5 separate regions of the Homo sapiens genome follow, and all the other regions are reported to be linked to region 1. Evidence: microRNA targets listed by miRTarBase, many of them from high-throughput screens and not tested one by one. Region 1 holds a microRNA gene; each other region holds the end of a gene's coding sequence.
The links. Region 1 holds the annotated microRNA hsa-miR-650 (AGGAGGCAGCGCUCUCAGGAC, at 3,013-3,033, shown strand). A microRNA usually pairs through its seed, bases 2 to 8, with sites in the 3' UTR of a target mRNA and lowers its output. Matches are read on the target gene's strand: a 7mer-m8 pairs with bases 2 to 8, a 7mer-A1 pairs with bases 2 to 7 and ends in A, and an 8mer does both.

Region 1 (6,205 bases):
TGAGACACAAACCCTTTCGCCATCTATGTCACCCTCTTTCTCTAATTCAAGGAGGACTATGAACAAAGCCTTACGCAGATCTGGTTAAATTCTCTTTAATCTCTGCCCCCAGCCTGTCCCTCCCTCCAGTCCTTCAGGCGGGGTCTGCAGAAAGTGCATCAGTAGTTCATTTAGGGTGATGTGATCAGGATGGACTGGTGTTTTGGTGACTCAGCTGTGACTTGGGAAAATAGGGCCTGCATGGAAGATCAGACTGAGGTAGACATCCACAGTTGTCTCTGGATTTCCATAGGTGGTGACAGGCCAGTCCTTGCCCCAAATGTCCTAGATCAGTCCCCAGAACTGCCCAGCTCAGGCTCCTGTGGTAGCCTGTCATTCTTTAGAGAAACACCAATGGAGTAGACACTGTGGGATCTGCCCAGATCCCCTGTTCTGAGCTTACCCACTAAGCACTACTGGGAGCTTCTGGCAGGTCAGAGCTGTGTCCTCACTGTAAAGTGCTGTTCGGTGCAGAAAACAGACTCCTCCAGGTCTATGCCCTTTCTCAGTGAGGTTAGATTTCATGACTGCCTGAGGCCGAGTTCTCGACTCTGCCTCAATATAGGAAGACCTGAAAATCCTCCCAGCTCCACAGCTCTCTGTAGGAAAGACTTGAGACCTCAATGAGGGTCAGGGTCTCCTGCCCAGGGTTGCCTCCCTCACCTCCTTTCACATCCTCTGTGCATGCAATTCCTCATCTCAGAGTCTGCTTCCAGGGAACCCAATTAAGATCACCAGCCATCCCCAACATGGGCCATGTGGGACTTCAGGAGGCCACTGTATGCTGGAAAGCACCTGTTTATTCCTAAATTAGCACTGTGAGTATCCACACGCCCAATGAGATCTGAGTGTTTCTTGCATTTGCATGGAATGAGAAGGGAGCCTGACTCGCCAGGTGCTCTGGGGTCTAAGGGAGAGTTGGAGTCAGATCTCCCTGCAGGGAAACCTGGGGCAGGAGGAGCAGCCTTACCCCATGCAGGGACCACAGATGCACCCACAGGGTGAGCTTAAGTATGGACACTGCCTACCTCCACCCTCCACATCCTGTGTAAAAAATCATTCTTTCCACCCCTCCTCCAGCCTATCAAAGTTGACACTTAAAAAGCCACCACAACCCACCCTTGTCAACAGGAAACCCATTCACATCTCCATCAGCCACACAATCTCCACATAAAGATTCTTCAAAAAATAATAACAATAGCCATGCAAAGTATATGATATATATCATAAATAATTGTACTTAGATTATATATGAAAATGATACTCTTTTTGATATGCTAGGTAAATAAAATACATTATTTAAACTCATTGACTTCTTCTCTTTGTATTTATAACATGATGACTAGACAGTGGGATTCCCATGAGGCTCACATCACATTGTGATTGAACAAGGCTGGTCTGCAGGGCTTCAGGTTACAGGGGCTGTGGAGTGACCTGGTGCAGGAAGCCCCGTCTCCATCCATAGGACATCAGTGTGAACCCAGGGAGAGGCGCTGGTATAAGAGAGATGAGAACACAGGTGTGAACCACCTGCTTGTGCAGGGGACTGAGCCTTCACTTTGAGCCAAATAAGTTTTCTTTCCCAAGTTCGATCCTGAACAAGAGGGCTTTCTGGACTTCTTTTTGTTTTCAGGTTTGTGCCCCTTCAGGTTTGGGGCTGTCTGGAGTCCCAGCCAGGGGACAGTGAGGAAATCCAGCAGTCTCACACTGACTCTGTTGTATTTCATCTGCTGGGGCCATCCCAAACTGCTGCGTACCATTTCCTTTCCTGGTGCTCAAATAGCTGCTCCATGCACTTGTCATGGTTTTATAGCTCAATCTAGATGGGAAGACAGGATAGTGTATGTTACAATATTTAAATAGAACCTGAATCCCTTAATAGTTATTTTAATATGGAACATTAAAAGAGTTGCATCATAGGCAATGGGGAAAGATGAAGAAAGATTAAACGCATTTGGAGGAAAAACTAAAAATGTCTTTATTGAATGTCTGTGTGTCTTCAGTGTCGAAGGGTTGAGAGAGGTCAGCTTTAGGTTGTCCTGAGGATGTGCTCAGATGGGGGAAAGTAAGAAAGCCGGAAACGTGCATCTCTGTGACCTGACACATAAATCACAGTAAAATGGAAGTAAATCTTTCAATAAACCTTTCAAGATAACATCACTCTGGTGCACATAGAAAGGCCTGTTAGCAAACTTTCCCTTTTCCCTGCTGGCTCATATCCCCATGGATCACCTGTATGCAGAACGGACTCTGTGGTCTCCATTTATCAGGCTGAGAACCAGAGGCTGGGAAGGACAAGTCACCTGCTCATGAGTGGGAGGGGCAGGATTGGGAGCAGCGGACTCAGGCTCAGGACTGTGGCCCTGGTTGGTGCTCCTTGTTCCCTTCACAGGGTCCCACCCACATGTGCCCGTGTGGATGTGGGTGCACTGCCTGGGGTGGCTGATGTGCTCCAGGGATTTGATGGTGCAGATGCTTCAGGACAAAGCATGGGAGTGGGGATGGGACGAGGCTGCCGCTGGGCAGACCAGGGACCAACGCCACCCAGCAGAGGCTTCCAGTGGGGTTGGGCAGCCCCATTTCCTGAGAATAGAGAGAACCTGGCAATGAGTGCCAGAAAGAGGTTACTTCGAGGTGTGCCCAGGCCTGGAGGGTCACAGAGACACAGGCACCACACAGCAGAGACACTGAGGGCCAAGAGCTCACTCAGGTGAGGGGCTTCAGCAGATTTTTCTCTCCTGAGCAAATCACGTGCAAAGAAATCAACTTCCTGTCATCAGAATAGACAATCAGGGACTTTAGTCTCCTTGGCTGAGCCCCGCTGTCAAGGGAAGCAGAAGTCTCTAAGCCCAGGCCCAAGTGAGGGTGGGGTGAGAAGAGGAGCTCAGGATGCAGATTTGCATGGAGGTCCCGCCCTTCTCTGAGGCAGAGGGGATAAGACAGGGCTGGGGGCAGGCCCAGTGCTGGGGTCTCAGGAGGCAGCGCTCTCAGGACGTCACCACCATGGCCTGGGCTCTGCTCCTCCTCACCCTCCTCACTCAGGGCACAGGTGATGCCTCCAGGGAAGGGGCCACAGGGACCTCTGGGCTGATCCTTGGTCTCCTGCTCCTCAGGCTCACCTGGGCCCAGCACTGACTCACTAGACTGTGTTTCTCCCTTTCCAGGGTCCTGGGCCCAGTCTGCCCTGACTCAGCCTCCCTCCGCGTCCGGGTCTCCTGGACAGTCAGTCACCATCTCCTGCACTGGAACCAGCAGTGACGTTGGTGGTTATAACTATGTCTCCTGGTACCAACAGCACCCAGGCAAAGCCCCCAAACTCATGATTTATGAGGTCAGTAAGCGGCCCTCAGGGGTCCCTGATCGCTTCTCTGGCTCCAAGTCTGGCAACACGGCCTCCCTGACCGTCTCTGGGCTCCAGGCTGAGGATGAGGCTGATTATTACTGCAGCTCATATGCAGGCAGCAACAATTTCCACAGTGTTTTAAGTCAATGAGGAAGTAAGATCAAAACCTGCCCTGGGCTCTCAGGCCCCCTTCTTGCTCTGCAGATGCTTCCTCACGCTGTATAAGGGTTTCCTGCAGGATGGCCTTGACAATTCTCCTCTCTCAGCTCCTCTCCTTTCCCACCATGAGGTCTAAAAGGAAACCTGCTCGTGATTTCTCGTTCAGGACTGTGGCAACTTCCTTTTGCTTGTGTGCTCTGGTCCCTTAACGTGCAACTATTCCTAGCTCTTCAATGCAGGGACGTAGGGACAAGGAGTTTACTGCTTGGTGCAGTCCCTCCTGTTTTCAGGAACATCCTCATTCTAAATGCATCCCCCATCTGTCACACTATGCAGATCAATCTGGACAGAAGCCATCAGGGGGATGGCTTCCAGTTTCCAGGAATTGCATCTTGTTCCACTCTGTGTCCACCACGCTCTAATGAAGATGGCCCTCCTAGCTTAAAGTGACCACTTTAAGAAGACTTGAAGATGTTTTTGAGGGATTAAGAACAAAGAGGATGCTGCTGTTTTTCTTTTTATTGCTCCTGCTCTTTGCCGAAATTCCTCAGGTTGCTGAGCTGGGGAGATTTTGAGTGACAGGCTCAGTGCTCTCGCAGAATTCTCCTCCCCTCACATCGCTGAGGCCCTGTCCTGGAAACTCCTCACAAGTGGACGGTCTTCCCATAGGATGGGGGATTCCAAAATGGCTCCACAGGAAAGAGTTAACCTGAGTCCACCTCCCTTCCTCATGGACATCGAGCATTTCTAATTTTCATGGCTGTCAATACTTTTGTACCTGGAATCCCTAATAATCTAATGGTGAGAATTGATTTAGAACACATTCGGACATTAGCTGGGTCCAATATTTAAATTTTCTGAGCCAGTTGTTAAATACAGCTATTATCATATATAGTTTAGGCTCCTTAAACTTCGATTATACAGATTATATTTAAAACAAAGTAACTAGTTTACTATATATATTTACAAAGTAACTACTATATAACATCATGTTGTGTACCTGAAATATAAACACTAAAATTTATTTCAAAAACCAAAGTGTATTGTCTATTGATGCATAAAAAAACACTCACAAAACTTAGCACACTAAGAGAACACATGTCTGTGACCTTGTGACTTGGATGCACCTAGAATTGGGAGTAGCTTAGTTTGGTCATTCTCGCTCCTGGTTAATCACGAGGTTGCAGCCAAGCTGTCAGGCCAGGCTGCATTCAGGCTACATCTGCCAAAGAGGTTAGGAACTGTGGAAGCCTCCCTCTGGCTGTGGAAGCCTCCCTCTGGCTGTGGAAGCCTCCCTCTGGCTGGGAGACTTCCGCAGTTCCTAACCTCTTTGGCAGATGTAGATCATCTCAAGGATAAAGGAGAGAGTGGAGTGAAGGCCCCTGTCCTTGTCCTCCATGTAAAAGACCATCCCATGCATGCACTATTTTTTATTCTTTGCTGAGACATCCTAGGCATAGAGCACTGCCCCATTCATTCAAAGGTTGTAGAGTATTCTATGGTAGAATTTTAGCCAACTCACTTTTAATGGTTATTATCACTATTTTGATCTTATAAATAACACTGCAGCGAACATCCTTATGTAGACTCCTTTGATTTTATATGTAGACATGACCATAGAATAAATTTCTAGAAGTCAAATTGCTGAGTCAAAAGGATGTGTGCTTGTAATTTTCACTCACTGTCCTCAGATTCTCCTCTAGAGGGGTTATCTACAAATTCGCAATGTCAGCCATAAATATTCGAACAGAGTACACTGGGGAAAGTTTAAATGTTTTTCAACCTAGCAGATTTAAAAATGTTATCTTTTTTTAGTTTTGATTTCTCCTGTTCTGCTTGAAGTTGAGCATTTTCTCTAATACTTCAGTGCTATTTATTTTTATAATTTGGTAAACATTTTCTTAAATGTCCAGATAAGAAGGATTTTGGTCTGTGGTTCCCAAGAGTCAACTTTGAGGATATTCTGTAGGTATTTTTAGCACCATTTATAGTGTAACCATTTAAACCTATAAAAACCACTCTCAGCTCTGGGGCCATGGAAAAACAGGTGGCAGGACAGGGATGGCCCACAGGATGTGGTTTAACGGTCCCTGATTTGTAGGGTAATTTGAAGTTTGAGAATTCCACCGCATATGTTCTAGGTGGAGATCTCTATTTGAAGGATACTGTATTTTACCTCCTATAGTGGCCTGAGGCTTTTGGATAAGAACATACTTGTATCATCTATTTAATTGGATCTTGGGTCTTCCCAGGACAGCCCTGTGTCACAGTCTCATGTTTTTCATCTCATCCATTTGCTCTGAGTTTTCAGAAAGCTTTAGTATATCAGAAATAGACTGACCCTAGGTGGAAAATCAGAGGTACCGGGAGCAGCAAATGGTCAGGGAAGCTTGCACCAACTCTGGAATAAACCAGTACAGGCTCAGAGAAAAACATCATAAAATCAGCATTGTAGCTGAAACCAAAAACATGCATGATCTTTGAAGTTCTGGGGATTATAAATAAATAAATGAAGTTTAAGGTTTAAATGTGTTGCAAATTTACATAAAGCATGTAGATTTTAAAACTCAGAATGTAGCAATGAAATATGGAAGCTTGAGATTTTAAGCTGTTAAGGCCCTACAACAAATTGCCAGGAACAGAACAGGAACTTGATAGTCATAA
Region 2 (6,118 bases), not on the chromosome of region 1:
CCAGAAAGAGGCGGCTCAGATCCCCAGAGACAGAGGCATCTGGAGAACTCAGAGGAGCCCCCAGAGCGGCGGTCACGGGTTAGTTCAGTAATCAGGGAGAAACTTCAGGAGGTCTTACAAGATCTGGGCCTGGGCCCTGAGGCTTCCCTCTCCACCGCCCCCTCTTGTCATCAGCAAACCTGGAAGAACAGTGCTGCCTTCAGCCCCCAAAAGATGCCCCTCTCCAAGGAGCTCGGCTTTAGCCCTTACATGGTGAGGAGAAGGCGGGCAGCTCAGCGGGCCCGCTCACACTTTCCTGGCTCTGCACCCTCATCTGTGGGGCATCGGGCAAACAGGACTGTTCCTGGGGCACACAGCAGGCTACATGTGCAGAATGGGGACAGCCCCAGCCTGGCCCCACAAACTACTGATTCCAGAGTACGAAGACCTTCTTCCAGGAAGCCTTCACTACCTTCAGATCCTCAAGACAGACCAGGTACCCTGGAGGGCAGCAAACAAAGCCAGACAGAGCCCGAGGGGGCTAGAGGGAGCAAAGCAGCCTTTCTTCGCCAGCCTTCTGGTTCTGGCCGGGCCCCAAGTCCTGCTGCCCCATGCCTCTCCAAAGCCTCACCTGACTTGCCTGAACAGTGGCAGCTGTGGCCCCCAGTGCCCTCAGGCTGTGCCTCCCTGTCTTCTCAACACAGCTATTTTGATACTGAGTCCAGCAGCTCAGATGAGTTCTTCTGCCGCTGCCACCGGCCCTACTGTGAAATCTGCTTCCAGAGCTCTTCTGACTCTAGTGACAGTGGCACATCAGACACTGACCCTGAGCCTACTGGGGGGCTGGCTTCCTGGGAAAAGCTGTGGGCCCGCTCCAAGCCTATTGTGAACTTCAAAGATGACTTGAAACCCACGCTGGTGTGAAAAGCAACAGAGCTGGTCTAGACACAGAGGTCAGTCCAAGAGAAGCTGTACCAAGGCCCACAGGAGAAGAGCCAATTTCTGGTCTTTGGGGAACAGATTAGTGCCCTGCATTTGACCAGCCCATACCATGTTTCAGCTAGGCTCACTGTGTTACTTTGAGTACTTCTTGATCTATAAAAAGAGAGGCATTGCCTGTCCTGTTACTACCTCGCAGCCTTACTATAAAAGACTCCAGTTGAGTGACTATGAAAGACACTGACTCCTTGGATAAAAGGTGCTGAATGAACACATAGGATTTTCTGTCCAGGTCAGCCTACATTCTGTAAAACTCTTAATATATTCAGATGGATGGCTGAATGGACAGACAGATGGAGAGATGCATGGGAAATTTCTGTAGAACTTGAGGTGTGGACTGTGACCCATCAAACTGGCCTTTTGGTGGACAGACCTACCAGGAAGATAAGTCTCCTACATCCTTGGGCCTCCCACTCCTGGAAGGCAGTGGTTTTATTTCTGCTGAATGTTGTGAACAGCACCTCCCTAGATTCCAGCTTCTGGCCAGACCCAGCTCAGAGCCACCCCTACACCACTATTTCTTGATGGTGTCTTTCCACCATTATGGCACTTTACCCTCCTCTCTGAGACAGATCTCCATGCGCCCGCAGGCTTCCCAGATCTCTCCCCTGGGATCGGATGTACCTGAGGTCCTGACTGTCCCCACTGTCCCCTTGTCCTGTGGCTCATCCTCGATTCACCCACTGATGCAGTTTTGTACTGCGGGGAGGCACACACCAGCAATTTCTGTTGGGGTATGGGAGAACCTGTTGGTCAAGAGTGCTTTTGGTTCCATTGGGGTTACATGACTACCAACAGACACATAAACCTGGAAGCCAAATGGAGAAATAAAAAGGAAGACACGAGGGACACGAAAACAGGAAAGAAAACAGGATTTGAATATTTCACTTGAGTCCAGCATAGTACTTGGCAATATCATATTTTTGTGATTCCTTTTGATAACCCTGTGAAGTAGACACTTTCATTTTTACAGACAAGGATTATGAGGCTTAGAGAAATGAGGTAGTTTCCCGCAACATCACACTGCTGGACAGAGATGTACACACAGCTCCTGGGACTCAAGTAGGTGGGTTTTCCCAGGGACACATGGCTTCATGTGTTCTTCTGGGAATGGCAGGTGACGCTTGGCAGACGAGACAACAAAGCAAGGCTCATGTAAGAAAGCTGGGATGTGCTCCCCTATAGTCCAGAATAATAGACCTGGGTCCTCACCTCAGGAAACGGGCCTCCACTTCCTCACTGCCAAAGGCCACACTGGCACCTCCCAAGGGAGCTGGGGAGCTGGTGAAGGATGAGTGCGAGGAACTCAGCCACCACCAGAGCCACAGGGAGAGCACACCTGGGTCCACTGTGCTTATTGCTGAGCTGGCTGTCATGTCCAGGCTGTCCCCTGCCCCGAGTCCTGTGTATACATCTGTGGGTGTGCACATGTTTGCATGAAGGAATTCAGGCCTTATTAAATATTCTCAGAGGGGGGCATTTGGCTCTAAATGTATCATCAATTTATCATGGAATCTTGGGGGCTGCTGACACCCCTGGACTCTCCAGGCACTGAACCATGAGGCCCTCCTGGAAGCACAGCTTCTTCTATCATCTACTTTTAAACAGGAATTTCCTAATTTATTCTGTGCATGGGTTTGCAGTTTCTTGTGCTGTGTGTGTGCTGTCCAAGTGGTACCATAATAAAAGAGAAATGACTCCCGAGAGGAGTCTTTTCAGAAACTGTAATCTGGGGCTGGCCAGGAGGGGCCCGGAGAAGGCTGACCCACCCAAAGAAGGGGAACCAGAGAAGCCATCAGAGCTGCTGCCGGGCTACCCTGGGTCCCAGTGTACCTTCTACCAAAGTTCCATTTGAACAGATTCTTCTGTGTTCTCCCTAAGAAGCCTCTTATCCCAGAAACACTCCCTCAATGGACATAGGAAACCCTGGAGACCCTGGACTCTTCCTGCCCCTGGGGGTCCTGTGGCTGGGCTCCCCCTCCTGCAGCTCCCTTCCTCCCAGCATGCCACCACTAGCAGCCCACCATTCATTCATGTGGACTCTAAATCTGGCAATCCTTCTAGCCTTCTCACTCTGTCTGCTTCTAGAACCTTAGTCCCACCATCCCCGCCCTTCTACATCTCCATCCTTCTGTTTAGAATTTTTTTTCCCACTTTGTGCCCTTGTGAATTATTCATCCTTCAAGGCTCAGGTGGAGCATACATTCTTTCTTCAACCTTTCCCAGCCATCCCCAAAGAAAGCTGATTGATTCCCTAGTTAAATAAGGAAGGATGGGCTGGAAGCAGTGGCTCACGTCTGTAATCCCAGCACTTCGGGAGGCCGAGGCGGCCGGATGACGAGGTCAGGATTTCAAGACCAGCCTGGCCAACATGGTGAAACCCCGTCTCTACTAAAAATACAAAAATTAGCCGGGCGTGGGTGGCACATGCCTGTAATCCCAGCTACTCAGGAGCCTGAGGCAGGAAAATTGCTTGAACCGGGAGACAGAGGTTGTACTAAGCCTAGATGGTGCCACTGCACTCAAGCCTGGGTGACAGAGCAAGACTCCGTTTCGAGAAGAAAGAAAGAAGAAAGAGAAAAAAGAGAAGGAAGGCTGTCTTAGGGTCTGTATTTTGGACTCAACTATATAGAGGCTTCTGTTATCCATTTGACCTAGAATGACTTTGTAACGCTTGCCAGACCTGATTGAAATTTATCATTTTGTTCAAAAGCAATGTGCAAACACCATAACTGTGCTCAACAAAATGTTGCCACCAAATGTATCATTTACTCTGTGCATCACCCCTACCCTTCCCCACCTCCTTTCCTAAATTTTTACCTAAGATCAGCTAATCCAGTGATGAAATCCTTAAAGGGCTGAATGTGCCATGACTTTTGGCATGCTCTTGGTTGTTCTGCTCTTGAAGAAAGGGCAGTAAATTGTGCAAAGGAATCCTGGAGAAGTAAACATTGCCTCTGCTGCTGTCATCTGAGCTATACATGTCTCTGTTGGTCCTAAGGCATAGCATGGAGCCAGGCCTGATTCTAACCCCAGCATATGTCCTCTGCTGTTGAAAATCTTGGAATTTCAACATTTGGATTCCATCCTGATCCCAATGTCTTTCCCTGTCCTGGTCTGCCACAAACCCTCTTTCCTTAAAGGTTCAACTTGGCCTTCCTAGAGTTCATAGAGGAGAAAAAAAGCATCAGAGGCAGGAGGCCTGTTTTTAAAGAATGATATCACTTTGAAAGAGGAAAAGAGAAAAGTCAATGCAAGTTCTATAAAATCTCTTCTGTATCTGTGTTTATCGTATTATCTTTACATGTGTCTCCTCCACAGATTCCAAGCTCCTGAAAGCATTGAGCATGTCTTCTCCATCGTTTTTCTCCTCTAGAGTAGCCATTACAGATCTTTGCACAAAGTATACACCCAACAAATGCTAGATGGGTGGATTTCTGGGTAGATAAATGGGTGAAACAAAGGAAGGCAAAGTTTCTGTTTTGGGGCCAGAGCGGAGGAGCAGGAGGAAAAACACGCATCTGGTTCCACTGCCTTCCGGTGAGTTAACAGCATGAAACTACATCACCTGCAGACCCAGGAGTCACTGAATTCTGAAAATGACAGTACTTTAAGTTTGTTGGGGGGTTGGGGAACAGGGCAATGAAGTTTATGGAAGAGAAGCGCAAAGTTCTTGATAAAGTTCTTGTCTTAAAGACGTTTTCTTTGCAGGCTTGTTAATGAGTAACAAGCAGTATTAGCAGAAGAAAGACCTGTTTGTCTCTATCACCAACAGCTTCCTGAGTCCCCTTTCTCAGAACTCCAAACAAAACAGTTTCTCTATTCCCTCCGGCCACTGCACTTTTCCCAGTAACACAATCTGGGCTCTGTTAAGGAAGGGTTTGTTTGTTTATTTATTTATTTATTTATTTATTTTTATTTTTTGAGATGGAGTCTCATTCTGTTGCCTTGGCTGGAGTGCAGTGGCGTGGTCTCAGCTCACTGCAACCTGCACCTTCTGGGTTCAAGCAATTCTCCTGCCTCAGCCTCCCAAGTAGCTGGGATTACAGGCACCTGCCACTACACCTGGCTGATTTTTGTATTTTTAATAGAGACGCGGTTTCACCATGTTGGCCACACTGGTCTTGAACTCATGACATCGTGATCTGCCTGCCTCGGCCTCCCAAGAGGGAGGGTTTAATGCAGACAGTGGTGTTTAGGAGGCTGAAAGCAGGAGAGAGCTTATCACTTTGCCCTCAGAGTTTGCTTTCCCTATCCCTGGCACCCACTCTGATGTCTTGCTCCTTGAAACATTCTTGACCTTAGCATTCCCCAATCAAACCACATTTGAATAAGAGAACATCTTGAGATGTTTTGTTCACCACTTAAGTCACAAGAAGACAGGAAATGCCAATGTCACAAATCAAAACCTGTTGTGAACTTGAAAAGGTCTGTGTCAAGGTTTCCCAAGAAACATTAGGCTCAGAGAATAAGTGCCTGGGAGACACCCTGGAAAGGTCTGTGGGTGACTAAGAAGAAAGCAAAAGGCTAGGAGAAAAAAAGGGAAGATGGATAAGAAGTTCAGGCACGGTCCCATGGCTCACGCCTGTAATCCCAATGCCTTGGAAGGACAAGGCAGGAGGATTGCTTGAGCCCAGGAGTCCAAGACGAGCCTGGGTAACAGAGTGAGAACCTGTCTCTACAAAAAATAAAAAATCAGCTGTGTGTGGTGGCTCATGCCTGTGGTCCCAGCTACTCGGGAGGCTGAGGCAGGAGGATCTCTTGAGCCTGGGAGGTTGAGACTGCAGTGAGTTATGATTGTGACACCGCAATCCAGCCTGGGTGACCCAGTGAAACTTCAACTCAACAAGAAAGAGGAAGAGAAAGAGGAAGAGGAAGAAGAAGAGAAGAGGAAGAAGAAGAAGAGAAGAGAAGAGGAAGAAGAAGAAGTCCAAACAACAGAGAGATGAGAAGAGAGATGTGGTGAAGGAGCAAGCCAATCAAAGAACAAAAGGCATCCTATGTGGACAGTTTGTGGCAATTGCCTCTCACATAAATAAATGTACTGACGCCAGTTCTAAGTTGAGAGGTGAGGCTTGCTTCTGCGAAGAATGGCAGAGATATCCTTGCAGAGTCCTTTCTTTAGGGCATGTGTGACTGT
Region 3 (6,022 bases), not on the chromosome of region 1:
TGCTTTCTGCTTTGGACAAATTATACTTAAAATTAAATTAAGAAAATGCTATAGGCAGGTATTGAGGTAATGCTTATTATTGTTATACTTACAACTCCCACACAGTTAACCTACTAGATATTTCTTTAATAGATTTCTTTATAGGTTACTTAGATGTATAAATATTCCTTGAACAACTCTGTATGTGCATGTTATTTTACTAGTGTGTTCACAAAACCTTGAATGATGTAGATGTGATTTTTGAGTTTTATGCTTATGTATGTTACTTTTTCCTTGCATGCTTGTTTAATAATATATTAAAGTACACACATGTCCTTTGCCATAACTAAAGCAGCCTGCCTGTCTTGTTTCTATGTAGGAGTCAGACAAAAAGCTGGGTATATCACTCCAGTTCCTGGAGGTGTTGGCCCCATGACAGTGGCAATGCTAATGAAGAATACCATTATTGCTGCAAAAAAGGTGCTGAGGCTTGAAGAGCGAGAAGTGCTGAAGTCTAAAGAGCTTGGGGTAGCCACTAATTAACTACTGTGTCTTCTGTGTCACAAACAGCACTCCAGGCCAGCTCAAGAAGCAAAGCAGGCCAATAGAAATGCAATATTTTTAATTTATTCTACTGAAATGGTTTAAAATGATGCCTTGTATTTATTGAAAGCTTAAATGGGTGGGTGTTTCTGCACATACCTCTGCAGTACCTCACCAGGGAGCATTCCAGTATCATGCAGGGTCCTGTGATCTAGCCAGGAGCAGCCATTAACCTAGTGATTAATATGGGAGACATTACCATATGGAGGATGGATGCTTCACTTTGTCAAGCACCTCAGTTACACATTCGCCTTTTCTAGGATTGCATTTCCCAAGTGCTATTGCAATAACAGTTGATACTCATTTTAGGTACCAAACCTTTTGAGTTCAACTGATCAAACCAAAGGAAAAGTGTTGCTAGAGAAAATTAGGGAAAAGGTGAAAAAGAAAAAATGGTAGTAATTGAGCAGAAAAAAATTAATTTATATATGTATTGATTGGCAACCAGATTTATCTAAGTAGAACTGAATTGGCTAGGAAAAAAGAAAAACTGCATGTTAATCATTTTCCTAAGCTGTCCTTTTGAGGCTTAGTCAGTTTATTGGGAAAATGTTTAGGATTATTCCTTGCTATTAGTACTCATTTTATGTATGTTACCCTTCAGTAAGTTCTCCCCATTTTAGTTTTCTAGGACTGAAAGGATTCTTTTCTACATTATACATGTGTGTTGTCATATTTGGCTTTTGCTATATACTTTAACTTCATTGTTAAATTTTTGTATTGTATAGTTTCTTTGGTGTATCTTAAAACCTATTTTTGAAAAACAAACTTGGCTTGATAATCATTTGGGCAGCTTGGGTAAGTACGCAACTTACTTTTCCACCAAAGAACTGTCAGCAGCTGCCTGCTTTTCTGTGATGTATGTATCCTGTTGACTTTTCCAGAAATTTTTTAAGAGTTTGAGTTACTATTGAATTTAATCAGACTTTCTGATTAAAGGGTTTTCTTTCTTTTTTAATAAAACACATCTGTCTGGTATGGTATGAATTTCTGAAATTCTGTCTTCCTATGACTCCTAGTTGTGACCTAACCAGTTTTTTTCTCATTTAATCAATGTAGCTATTCCTATATTCAGTAACACTTACTTCTATAGCCTTAAATAGATAATTTTTTTTCTTCTATTTTTTTTTTTTTTTTTGTAGAGATGGGGTCTTGCTATGTTGCCTGGGCTGGTATTGAACTCCTGGCCTCAAGCAATCAATCCTCTTGCCTCAGCTTCCCAGAGGGCTGGGATTACAGGCCTGGGCCACCCACACCCAAACAGAGGTTTAAAGAGCTTTGGAGAAACCAGCCTCGTCCTCCAGTCTCTTTGTTTGTTTGTTTTGAGACTGAGTCTTGCTCTGTTGCCCAGGCTGGAGTGCAGTGGCATGATCTCGGGTCACTGCAACCTCTGCCTCTCGGGTTCAAACAATTCTTGTGCCTCAGCCTCCTGAGTAGCTGGGATTACAGGTGCATGCCACCATGCCTGGCTAATTTTTGTGTTTTTAGTAGAGATGGGGTTTCATCACATTGGCCAGGCTGGTCTCAAACTCCTGACCTCAAGTGATCCACCTGCCTCGGCCTCCCAAAATGCTAGGATTACAGGCGTGAGCCACTGCACCTGGCCTGTCCTACAGTCTTATATCACAACAGGTTGTGCCAAGCTAGGAGCTTAATCTGTAAAATACTTGAGGCAGGGATAGGTTTGTCTGTTTTGGCTTTTGGCTTTCATGCGAGCAGAAGTAGCTCCTGCTCTAGGCAGCTTGAGGCAGAAAGAGAAGAAACAATTGAGTTGACCTACCTCCGTCCTCGTTCTTCTGCCAGCTGGCGTTATTCTTTTGATAGTTCTCTGGAGTTTAAAGAAGTTTAGATAGTTTGCTGGAGATGTTTTTGTAAGTGACGTATAGCTTATGTCTCTAATCCATGCCTGCTTACCTAGATTATTAAATGTGGAGCAAGATGACCAGACAGGATTAAATTTTATTGAATTACAGTTACAAGTGGAAAAAATGACTGACTTACTGCATGGAGAAGTATTATGTCAACCTGTTAAAAGCTATGGAAATTAAAATGTTCATGTATATACAAAATATAAATGACATGTAAGGTAAAATTACAGTGATCAATTTACAACAAAGAAATTAACAGTAGTTTTCCAGCTTGTTTGATTAATCAAGCAGGTTTACTCTTGAATCCATAGCATTTCTACAATTTAATTTGGACAAAGTTCTATTCCAGATCAGCCAGGTTTTAAAACTGAAATGTGTTAAGGGTGGATTGTTAGCTTCCCCAGGATTGGTGTGGATGATAAATACTTTTTTTAAAAATTAATTATTATTGTTTATAAGACATGGATTCCAGCTGTCTCCCTGGCTGGAGTGCAGTGGCATGATTATAGCTCACTGCAGCCTTGAACTCCTGGACTTAAACGATCCTCCTGCATCAGCCTCTGAAATGGCTGGGACTACAGGTGTGTGCCAGCATGCCTAGCTAATTTTTAAACATTTGTTTAGAGATGGGTCTCACTATGTTGCCCAGGCTGGTCTTGACCTCCTGACCTCTGCTGATTCCCCCCACCTCTGCCTCCCAAGTAGCGGGATTACAGGTGTGAGCCACTGTGTCTGACAAGAATTTATACTTAAGCATAGGAGATGGTTCTGGAAATTCTAAGAAATTCTGCTCTCAGTAAGAGTAGAGGTTTGGAGCTTTACCTCTTGGCAGTATCCCTTGGAAGGGAGCTCTGAGATTAAATGTAATCAAACACTTATTGAGAGCTTTCTATGGACCAGGCACTACACTAGACGCTGGGAATTACAGAGGCAATTACCTGTCCTATACTCAAGGTGTTAATGATCTAGTGTCATTTTTCTTTAAAAAAGAAAGCACCTGCATTTGTCATCTTGAGCAAATATAGTAACTCTAACCTCAAGGTTCAAGTGATTTACTCAAGGTTTAAATCATAGTTGTTTTGGAGAAAGTAAGTGTCAGATGCACTGTGGCTGTCAGGGTCATAGTAGGCATTAAATCAACATGGTTGGTGTTCATTAAATGTGGATTGAAGATAAAATGACTGATCTTAAGTTTCATGAGGAATAGGTTTGCTTCATTGAAACTGGTTTTTATCTTCCCAAATAGTTTTCAATCATTCCTTTAAAGTACTAGGTTGATTAATATTGCAAAGTTGTAATGTAAAATGTGACCTTACCTCTGTCTAACCTGTATTGTTCACATGAATGGGAGTTTGACTTTGGGAATAAACATTGAAAATTTGCAGGGAGGACCCACCCAAATGTATCATGAAATGTGATTCCAGGTATGAAAAACCAGTGATACTAATTTAAAGGATCATTTTGATTTAACATGTGGTTTCAAATTTCACTTTAACAAGAACTATTTTATTTTAGAAACATTTATCCACTCAGATGCATTGGTTCTTTCATTAACAGAGTTTTGGAACTGGCTTTTCAATCTGGGAAAGCCCCAGTCACACTTCTGGAGCAAGGCCCATAATGCAGATGGTTCAAACTTTTTTTTTGTTTGGATACGGAGTCTCACTCTGTTGCCTAGGCTGGAGTGCAGTGGTGCCATCTCAGCTCACTGCAACTTCTGCCTCCTGGGTTCAAGCGATTCTCCTGCCTCAGCCTCCCGAATAGCTGGGACTACAGGTGCATGCCACCACACCCGGCTAATTTTTTGTAGTTTAGTAGAGACGGGGTTTCACCGTGTTGCCTAGGCTGGTCTCGAACTCCTGAGCTCAGGCAATTCACCTGCCTCGGCCTCCCAAAGTGCTAGGATTACAGGCGTGTGCCACTGTGCCCGGCTGGTTCAAACTTTTCATATAACCCTTAGGAAATTGGATGTGACAGGGAGAAAAGATAGGACCTTTTCAGCATTTCTTAATATGCAGAATTGCCAAATATTCCAAAGATGGTCTAGTGACATAAAAGTATATTACAAGTTTGTTTGAGAACATCTATATTTAAATCTAACCTTTAAACAATTTTAAATTGATATTTGTTTTAAATATGAATTGACTATTGCCCCTTTATCTTAGCTATGGTTTGGGGAAACAAGCATTTTTTTATTTCCAAAGAAATGTTAGAATTTCTATGCTGAACTGCATTTTAAAATAAAATATAATATTTAGCTTTAGGTATTTTAATTACTACAAAGGGGAGAGCTTTGCATCTAAGCAATACTTTTCATCAATAGATCTCCAGTTTTCTATAGGCAGACGGACTCCCTCTGTTTGATAAAGAAGGAAACAGGCACAGAGAAGTTAAGACCCTCCCAGTGAAGACTAAGCCAGGCTCTCCATCTCCCATCTGGGAGAAGCTGCTTCATCCTAGAGGGTGGTCTCACTGTCAGTTTCTCTTCGGTATTTATCCATGTCTGTGAAGTCATAGTCTGACTCCATCTCTATCTTCACCTGTGGCACCATGAACACTGGGTTCCGTGAGTAGCTGAAAGCAGGTGAAGCTGGACAGGATATTTTGAAGTGCAAGGTGATGCTGAACGAGAAGTAGGAAAGAAGGATTACGTAGTTCTTGGTGTTTTGAACCCATCCCCTAGAGCAGGGCTCTAATGCAAATACTTCCATCTTTGCTTCTGAACTCTCAGCACATGCCAGAATGAGCAGTTTCCTATTGGCTTGGCCTTCAGCCATAGTCACGCATCTGGTCTCACCCTGTAAACCTATCTTCACATTGCTGCCAAGGTGAACTTTTGAAATCACAAATTTGGTGATTCCTCATTGGGTTCAAAGAATCTAAGCTCCTTAGTGTGAGAAGACAGGAGTGTCTTGTCTTCTCACAAACACAAACACAGTCTTCTGTGTTTGTAGTCCTGCCTGCTTAGTTTGCCCCATCCATTGCAGTGTTCTTTGCTCTTTGGAGGTGTGTGTGTGTGTGTGTGTGTGTGTGTGTGTGTGTGTGTGTGTTTGTGTGTGTTTTCAAATGGTACTTCGGGCCTGTGTCCACTGCCTGAAATGCCTTTTCTTTTCTCTGCCCCGCTCTATGTCTGGCAGATTCCAGTTTCCCTTTCTTAGATTCTCAAAACGAGGCTACTCCCTCCCTGTGTACTCCGATATTCTTGCACAGGGTGCTCTGTCTTTGTTTGCATGCCTTTCTTTCCACATCCTCAGGGATTAAGCATCGCACCTGGTAGATCATTGATGCTTAGTCTTTGTTAAACCAGATCATGTTGCAGAGCCTTTCACTGAAACAGAATCTTGCTATTTAGTGATCTTTGCCTCCATCTGTTTTCATAAATTCAGTAAAACACCAATGAGGTTGGGAGATACCATCTCCAGTTACCAAAGTTTCTTCATTTCTGACCCTGTCTTAGGGCCTTGTGTAATTTAACAGGGTTTTGGAAACCCCTAACCTGGTCCAAATTTTCTCTCTACTGCCTGAAATTGGGAGTAGTCAGTCAATTTCATGTAGATTATTTTATAAATGAA
Region 4 (6,205 bases), not on the chromosome of region 1:
GCGCTAGGTCCTGGGTAATGCTACCAGGTCATGACCTTAACACCTTTCCTCACCCAGAAATGGCCTAGCTTTGCAGTGCTAGCTTTGCAGTGCAGTCAAGATCACAACCCCAGAAGCCAGATTTAGGGAGTTCACATGCAGCCTTGACACCTACAGATACATGAATTGTCCCTCAGATACCGAGTGCAAGTGGGAAGTGATTCAGGTGATGAAAGGAAAGACAAATTTCCCTCATGGATATTTCTTTCTTCTCATTTGCCCAGAAATCCCAACTACCCTTATGAGTTCTCACGGAAAGTACCCACATTTGCAACCCCCTGGCCTGACTTTGTACCCCGTGCTGGTGGAGAGAACTACAAGGAGTTCAGTGAGCTGCTCCCCAATCGACAGGGCCTGAAGAAAGCCGACTGCTCCTTCTGGTCCAAGTACATCTCGTCTCTGAAGACATCTGCAGGTAGCAAAGCCCTGGGACAAGTGGAGGGAGCTGGGTGTTGATCTCAGCATCTGCTGTGCTCGCTGCATGAGACCTGTGCTGCGCGCGCATTGGAGCCAAGGGGTCACCAGTGCCAATGGCACAGCCCCTTCCTGTGAGTTGTTCATGGTCTGGGGAGCTCCATGTTGCCAAGGGCCTCCTGTTCTGATGTAGGGCTGGAAGGAAAAGAAAGAGAGGCACAGGAAGAGGGCAGTGGGGTGACTAGGAGAGAAGGTCTATGGGGGGTAGAATGCTGAACCAACATCAGGGCTTCCAGCCTAGAACGTTGGTATGGGAAGAGAAGGGAGTGTCTTGAACCTCATCCTCACAGTCCTTGAAGTCCTAGATAGAAAATCTTGGAGAGGTAACTCTAGCCAGGGGAAAAGTGGGCATTTCTACCTCTTCCTGTTGCAGAGGTGTTAAGGAGAGAAAAGAAATTATAATGAAGGCACTGGGAATAGAGAGTAAACACAATGCCCTTAGGAAGCTTTGGAATAACGGGTGTGAGTGACACAACCCAGGGGATGGCCCTCAGCTTTCCTGGAGCCATGATGGAAGCCTGTGTCTGAGTGAGCAGGAGCCCAGAGGAAGGAGGACTCACTCCTCCCTGGAGGCTCTAGGAAGGGTCCCCAGGAGAGGTGATGCTGGGCTGTGGTTTTTAGAATGACAGGAGTTTTTCAGATACAGAGAAATGGGAGTAGTCCGTTAAACAGGGAAGGGATCTTGTCCAGCTATAGTTTAGATTTTCAACTCTGCTTTTAGCTTCCAAGGCTGAGTGTCTGTCTGCTGACAACAAATCCAAGTACCATTGTACCCTTAGCATGTCCCTATAGCCAGGAGACCCATCTGGCACCTCAGCCAGTGGAAAATTCCCTCTAAAGGGCATTAGCAAGAAATGTCCACTGGAGGCTGGGGTCTCTTTGGGACAAAAGGAAGGGACCAGAGAAGAGAAGTCCTAATCTGGCTTGGACCAACCTTCCTTGCCCCTCTGTTTCAGATGGAGCCAAGGGCGGGCAGTCAGCAGAGAGTGAAGAGGAGGAGTTGACGGCTGGATCTGGGCTAAGAGAAGATCTCCTAAGCCTCCAGGAACCAGGCTCTAAGACCTACAGCAAGTGACCAGCCCTTGAGCTCCCCAAAAACCTCACCCGAGGCTGCCCACTATGGTCATCTTTTTCTCTAAAATAGCCACTTACCTTCAATAAAGTATCTACATGCGGTGAAGCATTGTTGACTCTAATGTGTGAATCCAAGGCAATTCGTTGGTAACACCAACTATATCTTAATAATCTTTCTAAGGTTTGAATCCCAGGCTGCTGTTTCCATTCAACAAATGTTTATGAGCATCTGTTATGCACCAGGCCCTGTGCTGGGTGCTGGAGAAACAAGGACTTTGCTCCTCCAGAAGGAGAGAATGCTGGGCAAACAGTGACACAAAAAATGGGGATCCATCAAGAGCAGGCCCCAGGTGGCATAGTCCCACCTGAGTGGTAGAAAAGACTCACTCACAAAGGTTCCAGAGTGGAGGTAGAAGACCAACTGGAATGGGTGCAATGGTCCAGTGAGAAGCAATGCACTCTGAAGCAAGACAATGAGGATGGAGCTGGGGCAAGAAACAGAGCCACAGGCCCTGGAGGAAGTAGAACTGATGGAACTTGATTAAATGTGAGAGGGGGTTGGTGCAAGGTGATAGAATTGCCCCAACTTTGGGATGATTTGGATTCCCGGATAAGCAATGTTCACCCTCCTAAGGGACACACGTTTAAGGCAAATATTCTGGTTAAAACGTTCTGTCTCTCCACCCCCTTTCACACACACATGGACACACACTTCACCCAAAGTAAAAGCAAGTGGAGCTGGTTAACAGTCTTGTTCACTTAGATGGCATGCCATCAAATGCATTCATACCCATCATGTTATTTGAGTTCAGAGTAAATTAGTGATGATTTGTAGGCTGAGATTTTTGTCCTATCTTGCAAATGTGGAAGGTGAGGCTCAGAAAGACTTACACTATACCTGAATTCACATGGTGAAGAGGAGGAGAATCAGAGTCCAACTCAGGTTTTCCCATTTCTCTGTTTCCATGCACTGTATGGACTATAAAATATAGGCCTAGGGTCACGTTGTGTGTCCTACAAAACCTACTGATAGCACTGAAAGCCCTGACTAGCCTCCAACCTGCATTATAGGCTCTGTTAGGATGGTTCAGCGAAAGCACTTAAATACTGAACTAAAAGGCCTTAACCAAAGGAAACTCGATAGGTAGATGGTCCCAGGGTTGGTCAGTGTCTCAGTGATGTCATTAAGGACCCAGACTCTTTCCAACCATCCTCTTTGCCATCTTCAGCGCATGAATGGTGTTTCAATTCACTGACATATTATGGCTGCCACAGCTCCAGACATCACACATAATCCCCAACAGCATCTCATGCTGGAGGCAAATGGGGAAGGAGCTAAAGGGCTTTCCCCTCCAGTGCTTCTTTCTTTTTTTGGAGGAAAAGTTTTTTCCCAGAGGTTCTCAGCAGAATTCCCCTTACATCTTTTTGGCTAGAACTAAGTCATGTGCTCCTTTTTTTTTTTTTTTTTTTTTTTTTGATGGAGTTTCACTCTTGTCGCCCAGGCTGGAGTGCAATGGCACAATCTTGACTCACCACAACCTCTGCCTCCCGGGTTCAAGGATTCTCCGGCTTCAAGGAATCCCAAGTAGCTGGGATTACAAGCATGTACGACCATGCCTGGCTAAGCTAATTTTTTTTTTTTGTATTTTTAGTAGAGACGGAGTTTCACCATGTGGGTCAGACTGGTCTCAAAGTCCTGCCCTCAAGTGATCCCGCCTCAAAGTGCTGAGATTACAGGTGTGAGCCACCGCGCCTGACCATATGCTCCCTTTTAAACCATCACTGGCAATGAGGGATGAAAGGGCCTTCTGTGATCCAATTATACCAGGCATGACTTATCCTCCAGAGTAGGACATATTGCTGTCCCAACAAAGCTGGGGTGCATTTAGCAGCAATGAATGAGGAGACAGTTATTGGGTAGACAATGGATGCCCCCAAGACTATGACAGTTGGGGCCATTTCCCCATCCTTGGGTCTCTCCTGGCATGGCCCCGGGTTGGAGTTGGCCTCAAGCACCTTTTTACTCCTTTAGTGCAGTGTGGGTTGAAAATCATGTGCTGTATTTGGAGGTGCTCTCGAGTTCCCAGAATCAGGAGTCATGGCCCTGGTGCTTCCTTGGTGTACCCTTAATCCAGGGTAAGGCTCCAGGATCTGGGGGCTCAGACAGGGGCAGGAGACATGGCTCCAGGAGGTAGTGCTCTGCATTCTCACTGTGTTTGGGTCTCCTGCGGTATCCAGACTGGGGGATGGATGAGACCTCTATCAGTTGTCTGTGGCTACTGTCAAAATTTTCACAAACTGAGTGGCTTGAAACGACAGAAATGTATTATTTCATAGTTCTGGACACCAGAGGCCCTGGATTGAGGTGTTACTGGGGCCGTTCCCACTCCAAGACTCTGAAGGAGGATCCAGCCCAGGCCTCTCTCCCACCTTCCAGTGGCTGCTGGTGGCCAGTGTGTTTCTTAGCTCATTACTGCCTTCTGATCCCTTCCTCTGTCCTCACTGGCCTTCTTCTCTGTGCATCAAACTTCCCTCTCTTTTCTCTTAGAAGGACACCAGTCATTGGATTTGGGCCACCCTAAATCCAAAATGATCTTATCCCATGATCCCTAATTTAATTACATGTGCAAAGACCCTAATTCTAAACAAGTTCACATCAACAGGCACTGAGGGTTAGGACTTAGATGTGTCTTTTGGAGGGGTCACAATGTAAACCACTATGGGACCCAGGGCTTGGGGACTGGACAGCATGTCCAGGAGGGGCGGGGGCTGGGCTGATGCAGTGCTATGGGAAAGCCCTCAAATCAGACTCTCTAAGAGGAGGAAGAGGAAGGGGCCTCTGTGGGTTTTGGAATGAGGCTTCAGGTATCTAGAAGGTCCTTCTGGCATAGCCCTCTCTATAGTCTGGCCCTAATAATGATAGAAATAAAATAAAAGCAATGTCATTTATCAAGGTCTCATGCCCTATATGAGGTTCTGTCCTCTGAACACTGTCTCATTTTTCTTTCTGAAAGGAAAGCTTGTTCTTGTGTTGCCATCAGGAATTCAGTGCTTGATATTCTACCCCTGAAGTTCTGTTCCTTTGGTTTTAATCACAGTCTGTTTTTAGTTAAAGTGAAAATTCCCTCCAGCAAAAGGGTAGGAGGTTTCTCCTCCACCAGCCCCTTAGTGGGACTTTGAAGTGAGGTAGGCTGGGCTGTAGTACCATGTTTGTCCAGGTGTTTGGATGAATTGGAGTAATTCCTTGGCCCAGTGGTTTCCATCCTTGACCGTTCATTGGAATCACCTGGGAACTTTCACAAACTCCCAATGCCCAGACCATATCCCAGACCAATTAGATCAGAATCCCTGGAGGATGGGGCCAGGCATTAAGGGATTGCAATGCATAGTCAAGAGCGGACACCACTCCTAATCTCCCTGATCTGCAGTTTCCTCACCTGTAGAATAGATTCAATTACATTGGGTGAGCAATGCTTAGCAAGGTGCAAGCTGGAAGCAATGTTGTTTCTTTCCCACCCTTCTCCATTTGTGGTAGATGGGATAACTAAGACTAGAGGAAATTAAAGTTGCAGATAGAGTTAAGGTTGCTAATCAACTGACTTTAAAATATCTGGAATTACACAGATGATGCTGATGTAATCACAGGGTCCTTAAAAGTAGAAGAGGGAGGGAGAAAAGAGGACCAGAGAGATGGCAGCATGAGAAGAATTTGGCCTGATGTTGCTGGCTTTGGAATAGAGAGAGGAGACCATGAAGCTAGGAATATAGGTGTCCTCTAGAAGGTGGAAAAGGAAAGGAAAATTATTCATCCTTAGAGGCTCCAGAAAGGATTGCACCCTGTGGACATCTTAATTTTCACCCATTTGAGATTCATGTTGAATTTGTGACCAACAGAATGGTAAGACAGTATATTTGTGTTGTTTTAAGCCCATAAATTTGTGAAAATTTGTTGTAGCAGCCATAGAAAACTAGTGCATCACTATACCTGTGCAGATGTATATTTTATCCTGCCCTTGGACCAAACCTCATATACCTAGCTCATGATTTTTCTGATAATAAAAAGTCTACTCTGGTATAATACAAACACCCCTTAAATTAACCAGCATTGGCCCTGAAAACAAATTGTTCATATTCCTTCACATTAGAGTTTAGTGATGAGCTAATGTTGGCGAACTGGTTTTTGACCGCCCCTTTGCAAGCCCTGCACGTATGGTCTAGCACCACCGGATGACGCCTGCTATTTTGTTCTCAGCCTTTGAAAACACCCCATTTTAACATCCTGTTATAATAATAACGCCTACTTTGCAGATTCACCCTGGTGACTAAGGGTGTGAATATATGTGAACAGAAAACAGCAAAGTGCTGTTCACAAAGATCTTGAAGTTAACCATGGATTTGAGGCACTTGCTATGTGCCAATGCATGAGAAAGGTAAAGATGGGAAATAGGAGGGACCCAGAGGCCAGGCGATCACAGTCCTACCCTGGAACTACCTTCAGAAACCTGCAGCGGAAGAGACAATCTACAATAGCTAGGGTGTGTGAGCTGCAGGAGATCAGAGTTCCTATTAAGACAAGTAGGGGAAGGTAATGCCCCAGGCCCCACGGTCAGCCCTCTCA
Region 5 (6,205 bases), not on the chromosome of region 1:
AGGGGGTCTGTGAAAAAAGGAGGCTTAGCAGGAATGGGGAAGGCGGCCTTTGGGGCTGGCTGGTTTCTACTTTGTCCTTGTGTGTTTGAAACAGAATGGAGCCCAATGCTACGTTCACCACGCAGCTCACGGCCACACCTGAGCGACTGCTCCGACTCATCTCTGCTGGGGTCTGTGGCCTCATCCTGCTGGTGGGGCTGTCAGCTAATGGGCTCATGCTGCTGGTGGTGGGCCGGGGCCCGGGCTCCCCCCACCCGCTCCACTCCCTGACCCACAGCCTCATGATGAACATCACGCCATCTGACCTGCTCTTCCTGGCCTGCGTGGTGCCTGTGCTGCTGCTGAGCTTCCTGCAGCACAACTGGTGGCTGGGCCCTGCCATCTGCACCATTAGCCAGGCCACCAACACAGCCACCACGTTCTGCATCTTCTATAGCATGGTGGCCACAGCTCTCCTGCGCCATGTGGCTGTGGCCCGGCCTGACCTGGCCTTCCCAGCCGGCTGGGGCACCCTCTTGCTGCTCTGTGGGGCCATGTGGGCCCTGGGCCTTACAGAATCCCTGCCCAACTGGCTGTTCCAGAGGGTGGCAGTGGAGGAGGAGACAGCGGGGGCTCCCAAGACCCAGGCCTGCCTCTTGCTCCTGAGCCCTGCTGGGACCTCCTGCTACATCAGCCTGCTGGGAGCCCTGGCCTTCCTGCCATGCACGCTGGGGCTGGGCTGCTCTTTCAGCCACGTGGGCTGGCTCCTGTGGACCCAGCCCCAAGGTCCCATGGGAGAGAGCATCCAGGAGCATTAAGAGAACATAGGGCTCAGCCTTGTGGTGCTGGTGGTTTTTGTGCTGATGTGGGGGCCCTGCTCCATGCTGGGTTATGTGGCAGCCATGGGCTACCTGCCTGCCACACCGGCTGCTTTTGTGGCCTCCAGCCTCTGCACCATCCTGGCCTACTCCAATTGCGCTGTCAGCCCTATCCTCTGCTTCTACCTCTCCCGCCCCTTCCAGGCAGGACTCAGGGACCTCTTCTGCAGGCCGATGATGGCCAGGCATCCCAGAGGTGTGGGAGTGGCAGCCTCAGTGGTGGCGACTGTCCAGCCTGGCCGTGACAGGGCCTCAGGAGGCCTGTGGGGCCTGGCGGGGGTCTAAGAGTATAGGCTGATGGATGCGCTGAGATTCAAGGGAGATGGGAAGACCCTTAGGGACCTGACAGCCCATCCCCTCTATTTTACCAGTGGAGAGACTGAGACCCAGAGGGCAGATGGCCCAAACAAGGTCACAAAGCAACTAAATGGCTCAGCTAGAGCTCACATCTCTAGGTAACCAGATGGATCCTCCCACTCCACTTTCAGGCTCAGATCTCTGTAGGCTCCACTGCTCTCTAATTGTGTGATCTTGAGCCTCTGTGTCTCAGTGTTCTCATCTGGAAAATGGGATGATGACAGTACATACCTTCTTCACAGGGTTGTTATGAAGATGAATTTGCTAAACACATGTAAAGTGCTTAGAAGGATGCTTAGTAAGTGCATATGCGTGCTGGTCATTGCTACTATTATTATTTTATTTGTATTAATTCAGGGGTATTTGAGGTGAGTGGACAAGAGGAGGACAGAGGGGCTTCCAAAGGCAGAGAAGTGGGTGGAGAATGATCTGGGGGGTAACAGCCTAGGGTCCTTAATCCTGAAGGCCAGGAGATTGAGTAGGGGGAGCAGAGGGCCAGCCACAGCCTGGGGGGTGAGCTCAGAGGCAGGACAGCCTTTCCCCTCTCTGCCCACCCCTCCAGCTCTGTTCCACACACCCCTCAGTCCAATAGGGGGACAAAAATCCAGTCAACCATGCAGCCATGACTCCGGGACTGTGAATGTCTGAAGCCCTCCTTTCTTCCCTGTGGCTTCTCTTCCTGAAGCACCTGGGGCAGGGATCCCTTTCAGAGCCCTTTTCTTCTCTCCAGAGCCCAATTTGAGGTTTCCATTTTTCCCACCCTCAGTGCCCTCCCTCTGGCCTGCTCAGGGCAGGCTTCAGGCTTCCATGTTGGCCTGGAAACCCGGGAGATTGTCTCTACTGAAATTCCCAAGACAGCACGTTCTGCTTGGTGACGGTGTTACCAGCAAAACACACATACACACACTGACTCTGTGATACAAAGCTTGAGAAACGTTGGGTTGAACCAAATCATACTGGTCCCTTTGCTGTAGGACTTACCAGAGCCTTGAATACCCAAAAGGCCACTGAGACTCTCGAGAGGGACGCACAGCAGGCAGGTTCCCAAACTCCATGCCAGAGAGCCAGTATTCTGTGGAACACACCTTGGGAAAGAATCCACAAGATGCTACGGTGTTGGGCACAGCAAAGATGCTCTTGGTGTCCCGTCCCGCCCCCGGCAGTGGCTCTGTGCCTCAGTCCCCCTGCCAGGCAAGCACCCTCTCCTGACACTTTCCCACGGCCCCTGTGGTGAGGTGACATGAGCTGCTGGTTATGGGAACTTCCCTCCTTCCAAGCTGTGACCCCACCCTGTTCCCACTCAAAGCATATCAGAATGTAAGTCACAGGGGCATGTAATTATAGGGACAGCCGTGAATCAGCACCCATTTACTATAAAATCATAAGAAGTAAACAAGTCCCAAACTTTGGTATAATTAGTTCCAAATTTCTTGTGATGTTCAGGGTGGGAATGGCTGCCTGGAGGGCTAATCTGGGAACAAACTTGCCCAGAGAAGGGAGAAATCCCCTTTTGCTATGATCCTGGTCCCTGATGGCCACAGGGATTTATATGTGAAGAGGAACAAGAGGAAAACAGTGTTTCTTGGGCACCTAAAATGCCATGGGTCCTGGGCGCATGTCACATATGTCACATGCAACCTTATGTACTCGTCACTCTGGCCACACGATGACCCTGCAAGGATGGGGGTGGTGGTGACGACCCCATTGCACAGGGGATGCCAGACTCCTCCTCATGGCACAGTGACTCTGGTGCCCACAGATTACCCAGCCCCTCCTGATGGCTTGGCATCAGTACCCCATGGTTGTAGTATTTCCTCGCTCACTGCCCCAGAGCAGGGGCACCCCTGAGGGTGCAATTCTGTGTGTGCATCTCCAGCATGGTCTCCAATACGTGAGTGGGGCCTGGCACTCATGTTTGGTAAATACTTGTTGAGAGATGAGTGAATGAGTGATCAAATGCAATAAAGCAATCCGTTTATTTTAGAGGAAATTCTGATGATGTTACTCACTTCTCTCACCTCCTCAATGGCTTCCCGTTTCACTCAGTAAATGCCAAAGGCCTCATCATGGCCTATGCGGCCTGTGCATTCTGGCCTCTTCACCTCTCCGACCCCATCTCTAGCACTTTCCCTTCCTGCACTCAGCTCCAGCCACACTGGCCTCGCTCTCCTGCAAATGCACCAAGGAAGCTCCTACCACAGGGCCTTTGCGCCTGCTGGTCCCTCTACTTAGAGCTCCCTTCCCCAGATATCAGCGTGGCTCCCTGTCTTACTTCCTGGGGGCTCACCTCAACCATGACCTCCTCTGAGAGGCCCTCTCTGACCACCTCATCGAAAACATCACCCTCCTTCTCCCTCATGTGTCTTTAGAACTCTTGCTACCACCTGAAATGATGTTACTAGCCTATTTGTTGATGTGTTTGCTGGGTCTCTCCCATATTATCTGTGTGTGTGTTGTAAGCCCTGTGCAGGGACAGGGTCTGTGCTTTGTTCATGGCTGCATCCTCAATGCCTAGCACAGAGCGTGGCACGTGGCCTTTGATTGTAAATCTCACTGAAGCAAACAATTGAAGGAAGCCACAGAGGAGAACTGGACCCTGTCAAGCAGCAACGTCAGTGCTATTTTTCAGAGAAGAAAGAAAAACTTCGTGCTTTACTAAAAGAACCAAATTTACTTCAGTTTAAGGCAAATTCCACACAGAGACTGTCTCAGAGACGGGCACAGAACCAGACACCGTAGAAACACCACCACCATGCATGACGGGGAAGCAGAGGCAGGCGGAAGACGGGGGCCTGGCCTGCACCAGGCACGGAGAGGTCAGTGGGCTGAGGAGCTCCATGCGGCAACAGGGATTGGCATGCATGATCTGCTCCCCGAGTGGGCAAAGGCTGGGCAGCTGGGTGGGCCCGGGAGGGAGATCCCCTTCTTCCCCACCTTTCCCACAGCAGGGGCAGGAGCTCGGGCTCAGATGCCAGAGCCCCAGGCTGAAGGACTAGGGTATGTTTGGGGTGATGGGATGAGACAGGGTGACCCAAAAGCCAAGGCGGCCTCAAGTAGGGTCACATCTGTTAGGAGTAGGATGGGGGGAACTGGGCATGGGATGAATGACCCTCAGGATGTCAGACCTAAAGGAAAACCTGGGGCCATCTGGTCAACCCTCTTGTGGTACAGACATGGAAACTGAGGCCCAAAAGGTAGAAGGGCCTTGCTTGGGTTCCCACATTAGGCAGTGGGGGGAGGCAGGGCTCAAACCCAGGACTCCTGTCTCCTAGCCTCATGGGATACAGGGCAAAGAGCAGGAGCAGTGTGGGAACGTGGGGCTGAGCCACTCCTTACTCAGGCCTCCAGATGGGCAGAGGCGTGGGCACCGAGGGCCCTGGGAAGCCTCTGGAGGGAGGAAGGGATTCCTGAAGCCAGGAGTCAACCATGGAAGTACCTGTGGGCCCACACCAGGGAGAGGCCTCCACAGGCCATCTGTGTGTCTAGAACTTGCATCGTACTGAGTTCGAGAGGCACCAGAAAGGGCTCTGTGCTGAGCAGCCTCCACTTCAGGCCCATCACATGGCCTACGGTCCATGATTACAGCACCCCATGGGGTCCCCGGGGCTCCCAGCGCATCCAGTGTCCCTGGGAGGGTGCACATGTTCAGGCCTTCCTGCAAACCCATCAGCTTCATGGGGTTCACTGGAAATCGGGCACAGGATAGACCACAGGGCGGGGCTCAGGGACAGGAGTAGACACCATGGGAGGATGGGACGGAGATGGGGGGCTGGAGGAGGCCAAGCCCAGGCTTCAGGGTGACAGGTAAGCAAATAGGATTGCCGGGGGTGGGCGACAGGGACCCCAATCACCCTTATTGTTTACACCTTCCTGGCTGGGTTAGAGCCAGGTATTGGGGAAGAAGAGAAGGGCTGGGTCCCTGTGTACCCCTCTTTCACCCGTACCCCCCTAACTCCCTGGGTTTGGGCAATAAGTGAGGCCAAGAAATTGAGGAGGGGTCTTCAGAAGCCCCACCCCCTGGCAGCCTCCCAGGCACACAGATGTCCCAAAGGCCGGGCAGGCCAACTTCGGGGAGTCTGGGGCCCTGGCCTCCCATTCACCTGGCCTCTCCCAGGCCCCAGCCACCTGCCTGCTGAGACCAGGTTCAGATGTGCGTGTGCAGGGGGGACGCAGGGGGCGTGCGGGCTGGGGACTGCGAGGGCGAGTGGGTTGGTGCTGCGGGTGGGGGACGCGGGCGAATGCCCTGTGCCTTCATGTAGGACACCAGTTGGTCAGGGATCTCTGCCAGCACGTCTCGGGCCAGGCGGGCCATGCTCAGCACGTGGTTGCCTGTGCGGTCCACGTAGTCCCGGAAGGGTACAAACTGGCAAGTGGGAGGGCAGGGTCAGGCAGTGCCTCCTGTGGGACCCTGGCCCCCAAAATCTCCAGGCCTGGGGTTGCATCCCCACCCCCCTCCCAGCCTCTGCTCACTTGACTCAATCCCCCCACCTTTCTGAATTACCTGAGGGACTGTATCCCTCAACTCCCTGGGTTTGGGCAGTCAGTAACTATAGTCATAGTCACTATTCTTTCATTCACTCGACAAAAACTGAGCCCTATTCCACACCAGGACACACCACTGAACACGATTTCTCCACCTCGGCACTAAGCACAGGCTCTGAGTAGGTGCTTCCGAAATGCCAACTGAATCCCTGACTTCTGGGGCACGTGCCCTCCTGGGTTTCCCCCGACCTGTCCAGCAGAGCCCTCTCTCTCTGGCCTCTCTTCGTTCCTTTTCTCTCTGGGGCTAATCTGGCCAATGCCTAATGCCAGGCCCATCTGGCTTCTTCCCGGGGGTGCCCTCCATCCTGAGCGCCTCTTCTGGCTCACTCCTGCCTCCAGGCCTTAGCATGGGCCGGTCCCACCTCCCAGGTTGTCTTGCTCTGGTTTCCAGCCCCCTATGTTTGGTCTCCACACCTGGGATACTGGGCCCCAATTTTTAAACCAAGGGG

Region 2: miRTarBase lists GPR156 as a target of hsa-miR-650. Seed matches in the 3' UTR shown: 7mer-A1 at 2,203-2,209.
Region 3: the mRNA of MTHFD2 is a reported target of hsa-miR-650. Seed matches in the 3' UTR shown: 7mer-m8 at 3,142-3,148.
Region 4: miRTarBase lists TG as a target of hsa-miR-650. The part of its 3' UTR that is shown has no 7-base or 8-base seed match.
Region 5: miRTarBase lists CPNE5 as a target of hsa-miR-650. Seed matches in the 3' UTR shown: 7mer-m8 at 4,450-4,456.

Annotation. Positions count from the first base shown.
Region 1 is chr22:22,819,779-22,825,983 of GRCh38, forward strand. It overlaps MIR650 (microRNA 650), which reads left to right and starts at 2,998; the gene lies at 2,998-3,093. It overlaps LOC105372948 (a long non-coding RNA gene), which reads right to left. Exons shown (of 4, transcript XR_938047.2): 4 at 1,203-1,858. It also overlaps IGL and IGLV2-8.
Region 2 is chr3:120,161,817-120,167,934 of GRCh38, reverse strand. GPR156 (G protein-coupled receptor 156) reads left to right here. Exons shown (of 10, transcript NM_153002.3): 10 at 1-2,457. The coding sequence ends at 903. All of the region lies in intron 1 of LOC105374065 (a long non-coding RNA gene), which reads right to left. Among named protein-coding and RNA genes, the nearest start is that of GSK3B-DT, 70 kb to the right of the region's middle.
Region 3 is chr2:74,213,721-74,219,742 of GRCh38, forward strand. It overlaps MTHFD2 (methylenetetrahydrofolate dehydrogenase (NADP+ dependent) 2, methenyltetrahydrofolate cyclohydrolase), which reads left to right. Exons shown (of 8, transcript NM_006636.4): 8 at 359-3,845. The coding sequence ends at 522. It overlaps SLC4A5 (solute carrier family 4 member 5), which reads right to left. Exons shown (of 31, transcript NM_133478.3): 31 at 2,522-5,072. Among named protein-coding and RNA genes, the nearest start is that of MTHFD2, 18 kb to the left of the region's middle.
Region 4 is chr8:133,133,207-133,139,411 of GRCh38, forward strand. TG (thyroglobulin) reads left to right here. Exons shown (of 48, transcript NM_003235.5): 47 at 264-454; 48 at 1,470-1,693. The coding sequence ends at 1,588. Among named protein-coding and RNA genes, the nearest start is that of SLA, 34 kb to the left of the region's middle.
Region 5 is chr6:36,736,910-36,743,114 of GRCh38, forward strand. CPNE5 (copine 5) reads right to left here. Exons shown (of 21, transcript NM_020939.2): 21 at 3,866-5,577. The coding sequence ends at 5,359. It also overlaps the pseudogene GPR166P. Among named protein-coding and RNA genes, the nearest start is that of RAB44, 42 kb to the left of the region's middle.